Regions from separate parts of the Homo sapiens genome. Here region 2 is linked to region 1. The links come from fine-mapping of genetic effects on gene expression. A gene starts in region 1. The other region holds a variant in brackets. All regions are shown on one strand. Distances are between the middles of the regions. Region 1 holds the start of SGTB (small glutamine rich tetratricopeptide repeat co-chaperone beta). Region 2 overlaps TRIM23 (tripartite motif containing 23).

What was found. PIP is the estimated chance that this variant, and not a neighbour inherited with it, causes the effect.
Region 2: its variant is the best candidate, but not a certain one, in a credible set for the expression of SGTB in whole blood (INTERVAL, PIP 0.85).

Annotation. Positions count from the first base shown.
Region 1 is chr5:65,719,754-65,725,017 of GRCh38, reverse strand. SGTB (small glutamine rich tetratricopeptide repeat co-chaperone beta) reads left to right here and starts at 2,909. Exons shown (of 11, transcript NM_019072.3): 1 at 2,909-3,101; 2 at 4,189-4,310. The coding sequence starts at 4,211. NLN (neurolysin) reads right to left here and starts at 2,813. Exons shown (of 13, transcript NM_020726.5): 1 at 2,604-2,813. The coding sequence starts at 2,644. RefSeq lists enhancers at 1,549-1,628, 1,401-2,222 and silencers at 2,499-3,108, 3,179-3,228, 3,289-3,338.
Region 2 is chr5:65,596,532-65,602,027 of GRCh38, reverse strand. It overlaps TRIM23 (tripartite motif containing 23), which reads left to right. Exons shown (of 11, transcript NM_001656.4): 8 at 4,848-4,977. Among named protein-coding and RNA genes, the nearest start is that of TRIM23, 25 kb to the left of the region's middle. The variant A/G (reference allele first, on the strand shown) is at 2,415.

The sequences.
Region 1 (5,264 bases):
CTGGCTAACAGGATGAAACCCCGTCTCTACTAAAAATAAAAAAAAAAAATTAGCCGGGCGTGGTTGCGGGCGCCTGTAGTCCCAGCTACTTGGGAGGCTGAGGCAGGGGAATGGCGTGAACCCGGGAGGCGGCGCTTGCAGTGAGCCGAGATAGCGCCACTGCATTCCAGCCTGGGCGACAGAGAGAGACTCTGTCTCAAAAAAAAAAAAAAAGAAAAAAAAAAGAAACAATGCCACTCCTAGGATAACTGTTATCAAAACCAGGAAATAAGTGCTGATGATGATGTGGAGAAATTGGAATCCTTAGGTACTGCCAATGGGAATGTAAAAATGGTACAGCCACTGAAGAAAACAGTATGGTTTCAAAAACTAAACATAGTACTATCCTATGACTCAGCAATTTTCACTTCTAGGTACATACAGTATCCCAAAGAATTAAAAGCAGGGATTCAAACAGACATGTGCACATTAATGATCATAGTAGTAGTATTCACAATAGCCAAAAGGTGGAAGCAACCCAAATGTCCACTGACAAATGGATAAACAAAATGTGGTATATACATACAATGAAATATTATTCAGTTTTAAAAAGGAAATCCCGACACATGCTTCAAAACGAATAAACCTTAAAAACGCTATACTAAATAAACCAGACGCAAAAGGACAAATATTGTCTAATTCCACTTATATAAGGGACCTGAAATACTCAAATTCATAGAGAAAAAATAATGGTTAACCAGGGATTGGGGGAGGAAGTAATGGGCAGTTATTGTGTAATAGGTACAGGGTTTCAGTTTGGGATGATGACAAGTTCTGGAGATGGACAGTGGTGTTGGCTGTACCTCTCAATTGTACACTTAAAAATTATCAAAATGGTAAATTTTGTTATATCTTACCACAATTTTAAAAAAAAGGGAAAAAACCCCACAATGTTAATCTTCTCACTGATTGGGGGGCGGGGGGGTTGGTTTGGAAAATAGTTATTTTTCATTAAAATCACTATTTATGCACCTAGCCTATTTATTAGTTTTGTAAATTAACAACTACTTTAATTTTTTTCCAGCTTTAATGTCTAATATGGTAAATATAGACAGATATACCACACAAACAGAAGCTCTTAGGTCCACGGTAATTTTTGAAAGGTAAAGGGGTCCTGAGAATAAAAAGTTTGAGAATTGTTCTTTTTTTTTTTTTTTTTTTTTTGAGACGGAGTCTTGCTCTGTCGCCCAGGCTAGAGTACAGTGGTGCGATCTCGGCTCACTGCAAGCTTCGCCTCCCGGGTTCATGCCATTCTCCTGCCTCAGCCTCCCGAGTAGCTGGGACTACAGGCGCCCGCCACCACGCCCGGCTAATTTTTTGTATTTTTTAGTAGAGACGGGGTTTCACCGTGTTAGCCAGGATGGTCTCGATCTCCTGACCTCGTGATCCACCCGCCTCGGCCTCCCAAAGTGCTGGGATTACAGGCATGAGCCACAGCGCCCGGCCGAGAATTGCTCTTATATGAAGATTTATTCCCTCCTCTCACCCCTGCATTATGTGAAGTCTTCATTTCTTGGTATAACTTCATTTGACAGCTATATCGATTGCAGCCTGGAGACTAGCAAAAAACGACAGGCTGAAATATGGTCACCAATCACCACATTAACTCTTTGTAATTAACCACTGTCGCCTGCCTGCTCCCTAACTCTACGGACTGAGCAACACAAAGCTCCATCCACACAGACGAGTGGCAATGTGCAAAAGGGAACTGTAGAAAGCTTAAATGCTGACATGTTACAAAGTAGTTTTGTTGATAGCTAGCAAGAAGCACACATTTTCTTTATTCTGTTGAATCTTCATTTGGATTTACAGTTCTGGGCAGATTTGGAAACGGGGATGGTGGCGGCATTGTTTCCGAAAACCAGCGCATCCGTGCAAAGAATTTAATTCCCTCACCATCTTGCTACTGGTCTGTTGCAGTGGGGTGTGGTTAGAGGGCTAGGAAGCAATCCAAAACAGCAGCTCAGGCTGCCCAAAGCCGTGTCCAAGCGATCATTTTCTCCATTTTGGGCCAAGTCAATTTGCACCGGCAAGAGGCAGAATGTTTGTTTTATGGGGAGGAGGAAAATAAAAAAGGAAGTCAGAGAGCATGGACGGAAACAAGCAACACCACCAAAGAGGTTTCATCTCGGGTGGATGTTAAACGATTGGAATGCTAATAATGGGCGCGAGGAGCAAACACAATTGTTCTGAGTCCACAGCTGCGGCACTTTTAATGACAGGTCTGTAGTTCTGCATTGGGATTGAACGTGAAATGATTTTCTTATCCAAACTATTTGCATTCATTTTGGGCCGCGTCTGTGACCAGCCTCGCTGACTGCGGCTGAGGCAGTCCCAAACAAAGAGGAATGGACGTCCTCCCGAGGGAGCGGAGGCGGGAAAGGTGGCCCCAGGTGGCCGCGCCAGGTGTCCCCCAGGGGTCCACCTTGCAAGCCGCGGGGAGGGTGCGTCCCGGGAGCGTCGGAGAGGCGCGGTCGGGAAGGGGTGGGTCCGGGCTCCAGGCACCACACGGCGAAAGACCCCGCCCTGCCCACGGCCAAGGTTAACCCGCGCGCTGGAGGTACCTGCGGAGGCTTCGCACAGCCAAAAGGCACCGGGCGATCATGGGAGCGCTGAGAGGCTGGCGGCGGCGGGCGCGTGGTCCTTCGGCGTGGGGCGGCGAGGCGGGCGGCAGCGCCTGGGCGCCCGGGAGTCTCGAGCCGGCCTAGCCGCAGAGGCCACAGTGGCTGCCTGGCCAGCGCCCTCCCACGTGCGGCAGCTCCACGCCGGCGCCTACCAGCCCCGCCCCGCGCCGTGCCCCGCCCCAGCTCGCGTGTCTGGCCCCGCCCCAGCCCTCGCGTCCGGCCCCGCCCCAGGGGCGGTGCTGGCCAGACCCTGCCGCCTGAGAGAGAGCACAGCCTGGTGGGTTCTGGGGTCTACGGCCTAGGGGCCGGGGAAGTTTGCGCCGCCGCGACCAGTGCTGCGATCCCGAGCCGGGCTCCAGCCCCGAGGACCAGGGGTCGGGCGGGCCTGCCTACGGAACCCCGCGGGCCAGCAGCAGTCGTCTCGCGTCCTCCTGCTTGGTAAGGGGCTTCTGTCTGGCAAGGGTGCGCCTCCCGCCGCTCCGGACCGGGGCCCGCACCGGCACCCGCTGCACACCGGGCAGGGCCGAGGCGAGGCCGGGTACCTGAGGGAGGACGGAAGGGAGGGGGAGCTCGATGCGCTCTGGGGAGAGGAAGGGGGAGAAGCCTATTTCCCTCTTCTCACCCCTTTTCCCCCCATTCTGTTTTTACCTTCTGCCCTGGGGCCTTATTTAGTGCTTATGACCCCGTGGCCTAGAGGCTGACATCGCCTTTAAAATAACTACACAAATAATAAACATTATAGCGGCGGGTACCACACCCTGGCTTTGAATTAGGGAACCTGGGGAGCAGATGGATGATGCGATTTGGTGGAAATCAGCCATGAATGCCGCCTGGCCCTGCGCCACTGTTTGGATGCGATAGTATTCCATGTGAATGAACATGACCGGGAGCTTCCAGCTTGTCCACGAGAGCACAGCCTCTGCAGGGAGCGCCGGTCGGCTTGTAGTATCCATCGACTTGGGCAGCGATTTCCTGACATGTCTGCTGATTAAATAGAAATGCCATTTTTATTAAGAACGACACTCACCACTTGAATAACCTTTCGCGAATGTGTTTCCTCATCAAATAACTCTCAACCTACAAAAGTGGGTAGAGTGTACATTATTAATACTTTTTTTAGATCCCATGAAAAAGAGGAAGATGCTTGGTATACATCAGCTTTTAGTCAGCAGTATGAAATGCCTCTTAACTTAGTACTGAGGCCTTTAGGGGATTTCTGTATGGTGAGATATGCAGTGACAGTCTAAGCTTATGCTGTACATGTTTTGAAGACATTTTTACTTATTCCAAGATTTAACATACTCGTATACCACTGGGTATTAATGAAAATATGTAATAAATTACCTTCACAATACTTTGTGCTCTCCTGACTCTTTACAAAGAGAAAAGATGAAAGGTCATACAGTTTTGTGTTTTGTTTTTACCTTTAATACACTTTATAACCCATATCATCTTTGTAATTTATGACTTTCCTGACTGATTCTTTAAAATAACTTAGTTCAGTGTTTTCATTTTTCTTATCAAGGAAAAGTGTTTAAGCTTCTAAAATGTCATCTATCAAGCACCTGGTTTATGCAGTTATTCGTTTCTTACGGGAACAAAGTCAGATGGACACTTACACCTCGGATGAACAAGAAAGTTTGGAAGGTATGCATCTGCTCTTTGTGTTCATTTATATTATAATTATAAACGAAGACTAAAATAGCTGTAAGCCCAACTTGATGATCTATTGTAACATAATCAGAATTTTTTTTGATCTTTCAAGAGGAGAGGCCTGACTATAAGGTTATCGTATTTCCATTTTCTGAAGCTTGTTTTGTTTGTTTTAACAACAAATTAAGAGGACTATTGTTCATTTATTGAACAAATACTATATGTCAGAAGTATGCTGTTCATATTATAGGCAATTTTTTCTTCACAGCAACTGTTATGTTAGTATTATCCCCATTTAACAAGTGAGAAAATAAAACCAGGGCCAGGCTTGGTGGCTCATGCCTGTAATCCCAGCACTTTGGGAGGCCGAGGCAGGTAGGTCATTTGAGGTCAGGAGTTCAAGACCAGGCTGGGCAACATGGCAAAACCCTGTCTCTACTAAAAATACAAAAAGTAGCCAGGTGTGGTGGCACTTGCCTGTAGTCCCAGCTACTCAGGAGGCTGAGATAGGAGGGTGGCTTAAACCCAGGAGGTGGAGGTTGCAGTGAGCTGAGATCACACCACTGCACTCCAGCCTGGGCCATGAGCGAGACCCTATCTCAAAAAAAAAAAAAAAAAAAGAAAAAGAAAATGAAACCAAATAGCGTAAGCAGATAACACAGCTGATATGTGATAAAGCTGAGATTTAAATCCTGGTTAATACTCTGAAGATCTTGTTGTCTCCATTTCCTAATAGGAAAGCATCCAGTTTAGAAATAATATATAAAAATACCTGAGTCATTTTAATAGCACTATGTAAAAGTCTAATAATTATACCACTAGTGAGATCTGACCAGTGCCTAATTTGGAACTTGAAATGGGAGCATTTCACCTGTGTTTTACGTTAACTTTAATATTGGATTCGGTAATCTGTAAAGTTGAACAGGATGTGGGTGATAGCATCATGTG
Region 2 (5,496 bases), 120 kb after region 1:
AAATGTCTCTAGGCCATGTCAGAGACCTTCATGGCAGCCCCTCCCATCACAGGCCTGGAGGTCCAGGAGGAAAAAGTGGTTTCATGGGCTGGGCCCAGGGTCCCCATGCTGTGTGCAGCCTGGGGACTTGATGCCCTGAGTCCCAGCTGCTCCAGCTGTGGCTGAAAGGGGCCAATGTAGAGCTCGGGCTGTGGCTTCAGAGGGTGGAATCCCCAAGCCTTGGCAGCTTCCATGTGGTGTTGAGCCTGTGGGTGCACAGAAGTCAAGAATAGAGGTTTGGGAACCTCTGCTTAGATTTCAGAAGATGTATGGAAACACCTGGAAGCCTAGGCAGAAGTTTGCTGTAAGGGCAGGGTTTGGAGGGGCGAGGGGCAGAATGATATGCTTGAGATTTTGGGTGTGCCCCCACCCAAATCTCAACTTGAATTGTATCTCTCAGAATTCCCATGTGTTAGGGAGGGACCCAGGGTGAGGTAATTGAATCATGGGAGCTGGTCTTTCCTGTGCTATTCTTGTGATAGTGATTAAGTCTCACGAGATCTGATGGGTTTATCAGGGGTTTCCGCTTTTGCTTCTTCCTCATTTTTCTCTTGCTGCTGCCATGTAAGAAGTGCTTTTTGCCTCCTGTCATGATTCTGAGGCTTCCCCAGCCATGTGGAACTGTAAGTCTAATTAAACCTCTTTTTCTTCCCAGTCTTGGGTATGTCTTTATCAGCAGCATGAAAATGGACTAATACAATGTGTATACCACATTTTGTTTGTTCATTCATCTGTTGATGGAAACTTGGGTAGCTTCCACCTCTTGGTTTACTGGGAATAGTGCTGCTGTGTACGTGAGTGTACAAATATCTCTTCAAGACCCTGCTTTCATGGTCTTTTGGATATATACCCAGAAGTGAAGTTGGTAGATCATATAGTAGTTCTGTTTTTAATTTTTTGAGGAATCCCCATACTGTTTTCCATAATGGTTGCACCATATTACAGTTCCACCAGTGGTGCACAAGGGTGCAGTTTCTCCACATTTTCACCAACACTTGTTATTTTCTGTTTTTGGATAGTAGCCATCCTGATTGGTTTGAAATGATACCTTATTTGTTTTGATATCCATATCTCTGATGACTAGTGCCATTAACCATCTTTTCATATAATTGTTGGCCATCTGTATATTGCCTTGAATATGTCTATTTCTGTCCTTCGCTCACTTTTTGATTGGGTTGACTATTTTTGTTGTTGAATTGTAGGAGTTCTTTGTATATTCTGGATATTAATTCCCTATCAGATCTGTGACTTTCAAATATTTTCTCCCATTTCATAGGTCAATTTTTCACTCTGTTGATTTTGTCATTTTATGCACAAAAATTGTAAATTTGATGTAGTCTATTTTTGCTTTTTTTTTTTTTTTTTTACTGTGCTTTTCGTGTATCCCTGAAGTCACTCTCAAATGCAATGTCATGAGGCTTTTCCTCTGTTTTTTCTTCTAGGAGTTTTATGGTTTGGGGTCTTAAGTTTATGGCCATTTTGAGTTAATTTTTTTAGGTGGTGTAAGATACATAACATCCTTTTGCATGTAGATATCCAGTTTCCCCAGCATCATTTATTGAAGAGACTGTCTTTTCATTGAGTGGTCCTGCACCCTTGTTGAAGATCATGTGACCCTATTCCTGAGGGTTTATTTCTGGGCTCTCTCTTCTGTTCTGTTGGTTTGTATGTCTCATCTTTATGCCAGTACCACATAGTTTTCATTATTGTAGCTGATATGGCTTGGATCTATGTTCCTGCCCAAATCTCATTTCCAGTTGTAATCCCCAATGTTGAAATGGGGCCTGGTTGGAGGTGACTGGATCATGGGGGCAGTTTCTCATGAATGGTTTAGTATCATCCCCCTTGGTACTGTCTTTGCCATAATAGGTGAGTTCTCATGAGATCTGGTCGTTTAAAAGTGTGTGGCACCTCCCCCACCCTCTCTCTTGCTCCTGCTCCTGCCATGTGAAATGCCTCACTCCCTCTTTGCTTTCCACCATGATTGTAAGTTTCCTGAGGCTTTCCCTGAAGCCAAGCTGATGCCAGCATCATGCTTCCTGTACTGCCTGTGGAACTGTGAGCCAATTAAACTTTTCTTTATAAATTACCCAGTCTCAGGTATTTCTTTATAGCAGTGCAAAAACAGAACAATACATTAGCTTTGTAATATATTTTGAAGTAAGGAAGTGTGAGTCCTCCAACTTTTTTCTTTTTCAAAATTGTTTTGGCTATTCAGGGTCACTTGAGCTTCCTTATAAATTTTAGCTTAATTTTTTCTATCTCCACAAAAAACATGATTGGGATTTTGATAGGGATTGCATTGAATCTATATAAATTACCTGGGCTGTTATTCATATCTTAATATTTTATGTCTTTCAATCCATGGACATGGA[A/G]TGTCTATTTATGTCTTAATTTATTTTAGCAATATTTGTAGTTTTTAGTGTACAAGTCTTTCACCATCTTGGTTAGGTGTACGCCTACATATTAGGTTGGTGCAAAAGTAATAGTGGTTTTTGCCATTAAAAGTACTGGCAAAAGCCGCAGTTGCTTTTGCACCAACATAGTATCTTAAGTCTTTCACCATCTTGGTTGAGTTTATTCCTAAGTATCTTAAACTTTTTTTTCTGTACATGTTCAGAGAAACTTCTTTAGTCATAAACTATAAAAATGATCCCTGAAAGTATAATTTTGATGCTATTTTAAGTAGAATTGTTTCCTTAATTTCCTTTTGGGATTTTTATCATTAATGTATAGAAATGCAACTGATTTTCATGTTGATTTTATATCCTGAAACTTTGTTGACTTTATTCTAATAGGTCTTTTTGTGTGGACTCTTCAGGGTTTTCTACATACAAGATCATGTCATCTGTGAAGAGATATAATTTTACATCTTCCTTTACAATTTGGATGTCTTTTATTATTCTTCTTGCCTAATTGCTCTGTGGGCATCTTCTTGTTCTTTATCTTAGAGAAAAAGCTTTCAGTTTTTTGAGTATGATGTTAGCTGTGGGCATTTCTTATATGGTGTATGTTAACTGAGGCAGTTTCCTGCTACTCCTAGTTTGTTGAATGTTTTTATTATGAAAGGGTATTGAATTTTGTTAAATGCTTTTTCTGCAACTATTGAGATGATTACGTGCTTTTTTTCTCTCATTCTGTGTATTATGCTGATTGATGATGAATAATTCTTGCCTTCCAGTTATAAAGCCCATTTGGTCATGGCGTACAATCCCTTTAATATGTGTTTTTTTTTTTTTTGAGGCGGAGTTTCGCTCTTGTTGCCCAGGCTGGAGTGCAATGGCGCGATCTCGGCTCACTGCATTCTCCACCTTCCGGGTTCAAGCGATTCTTCTGCCTCAGCCTCCTTGTAGCTGAGATTACAGGCGTGCGCCACCATGCCTGGGTAATTTTGTATTTTTAGTAGAGACGGGGTTTCTCTATGTTGGTCAGGCTGGTCTCGAACTCCTAACCTCAGGTGATCCACCCCCAACCTCGGCCTCCCGAAGTGCTGGGATTACAGGCATGAGCCACCACGCCCGGCCTAATGTGTTGTTGAATTCAGTTTGCTAGTATTTTGTAGTTTCCTCCTGGTTGCACCTCATCCTCACTATGTTGGATATGGGGAAGGGCAGGGATGAGTGCACAGAATGCCCCAAATTTTATTACCCCTTTCACTGGAATGCCTTCTTGGTTTTATGGCCTGGGTGCTGTAGTTTCTTAACTGTTCTCTAGAGTTCTCACAGAAGTAGTTCTGTTCCATATATTGTTTTATTTCTGAGGTGTATAACTGGACTTAAGTATAGATTTGGAGCCATAATATACATGGTAATTAAAGCTCATGAAGAGAATGAAAATATGTAGAATGAGAAGGAGGCCTCATATAGACCCTCAAGAATACCAACATTTAAGAGCTGGATTAAAGAAAAATTAGAAGGAACATCCAAAAATGGGATAAAACCAAACCAGGAAAAGTTTGTATCATAAAATCCAAGCAAAGAGTGCTCAAAGGAGTAAGCAAAAATAACACATATATTTTGGGAACTGTTGTAAGGACTTTTATATGTATTCTTAAAAATTAATCCTTTCAAGAATCCTATGTAAATTTTGTACTATTTTAATCCTCCTTTTATGAGATGAAAGAAGTGAAGCAGAGAAATCATGCAGCTAGTAATATATAAAAATGTTCATTATAGCATTATTTGTAATATCATAAAATCAGAAATTACCTAAAATCTATCAGTTGGGGGTTTAGTTAAATTGTGGTTTATGAAATGTAAAGAAGCCATTAAAAGAAAAAGGTTGGTCAATATGTATTGACAGGATTCCATAATATACTGTTGAGTGAAACACATTAGTTTCAATGTGTGGGTAATACTTTTTTAAAAAAAAATTTGTTTTGTTTGTGTATGTTGGCCAGTATGTGCATGGAAAGTGTCTGGAGGGATATACATCAGATTCATAGTAGAAATTTCTGGGAATTGAGCAGCACTTTTTCATTTTAATTGATTTACCCTTATTGTGATTTTTTTAGTATAGCATAAAAACATGTTTAAGATTTAGAGGATTCATTTGAGTTAGAAAATCTGAGAAAATTAAGTGGGTATGTATATTCTGTTATACAAAGACAAAGTGGTCAGTTTTACTAAGGCAAGATTTAGCCATGGGGAAGGATTTCATCTTCTTGAGATCAGACTCAGTATTTTGAGGAATACAATTCAGATTGCAATGGTTGAGGAATGAATAGGAGATGTAGAAATAATAAAGGTGCTAAATGCTATTACTTTCTAACTGCATGTCAAACATATTTAAAAATATTTAAATTGTAGGATAATCGAGTTCACATTGGACCAAAAATGGAAATTCGGGTCGTTACGTTAGGATTGGATGGTGCTGGAAAAACTACTATCTTGTTTAAGTTAAAACAGGATGAATTCATGCAGCCCATTCCAACAATTGGTAAGTATGAATATTGGTTTTTACCTTAATAGACAAACCCTAGCTTACAGCCAAGTTCTTGGGGTCTTATTTGATACTGATCTGTCATGGTGGTGGGCTCTTTTCTGGCTCTAAGATATCAGCATCTCAGAGAAAAAATGCAAGATTGTATGACTATGGGATTGAAATGTGGATGGGGATAAAAAGAAGAAACAGAGTATTGGTGGGACAGTTGGAAGGAATAGAGGATTGGTGATCCTGGCTGAGGGTGTGGGGTGGGGGGTAGTTGTGGAACAGAGCTGGAAGGTACATGGATCCCAAGGTCCTAAGGACCTTGGTGGAGGTTTAGAGGGCTAGGAGCTGTTACAGGTATACATTCACCACGTAGGAGTAGGAATGGGGTTGATTAGGCTTCAGTAGATATTGCTGCATGTAGATAATTTGATAAGTCACAGTTATAAACTGGGGGTTGTCTGTGTTTGATATGTCATTCATTGTAAATACAAATATAGTATAAAAGTAACTTTTTTTTTAAAACAG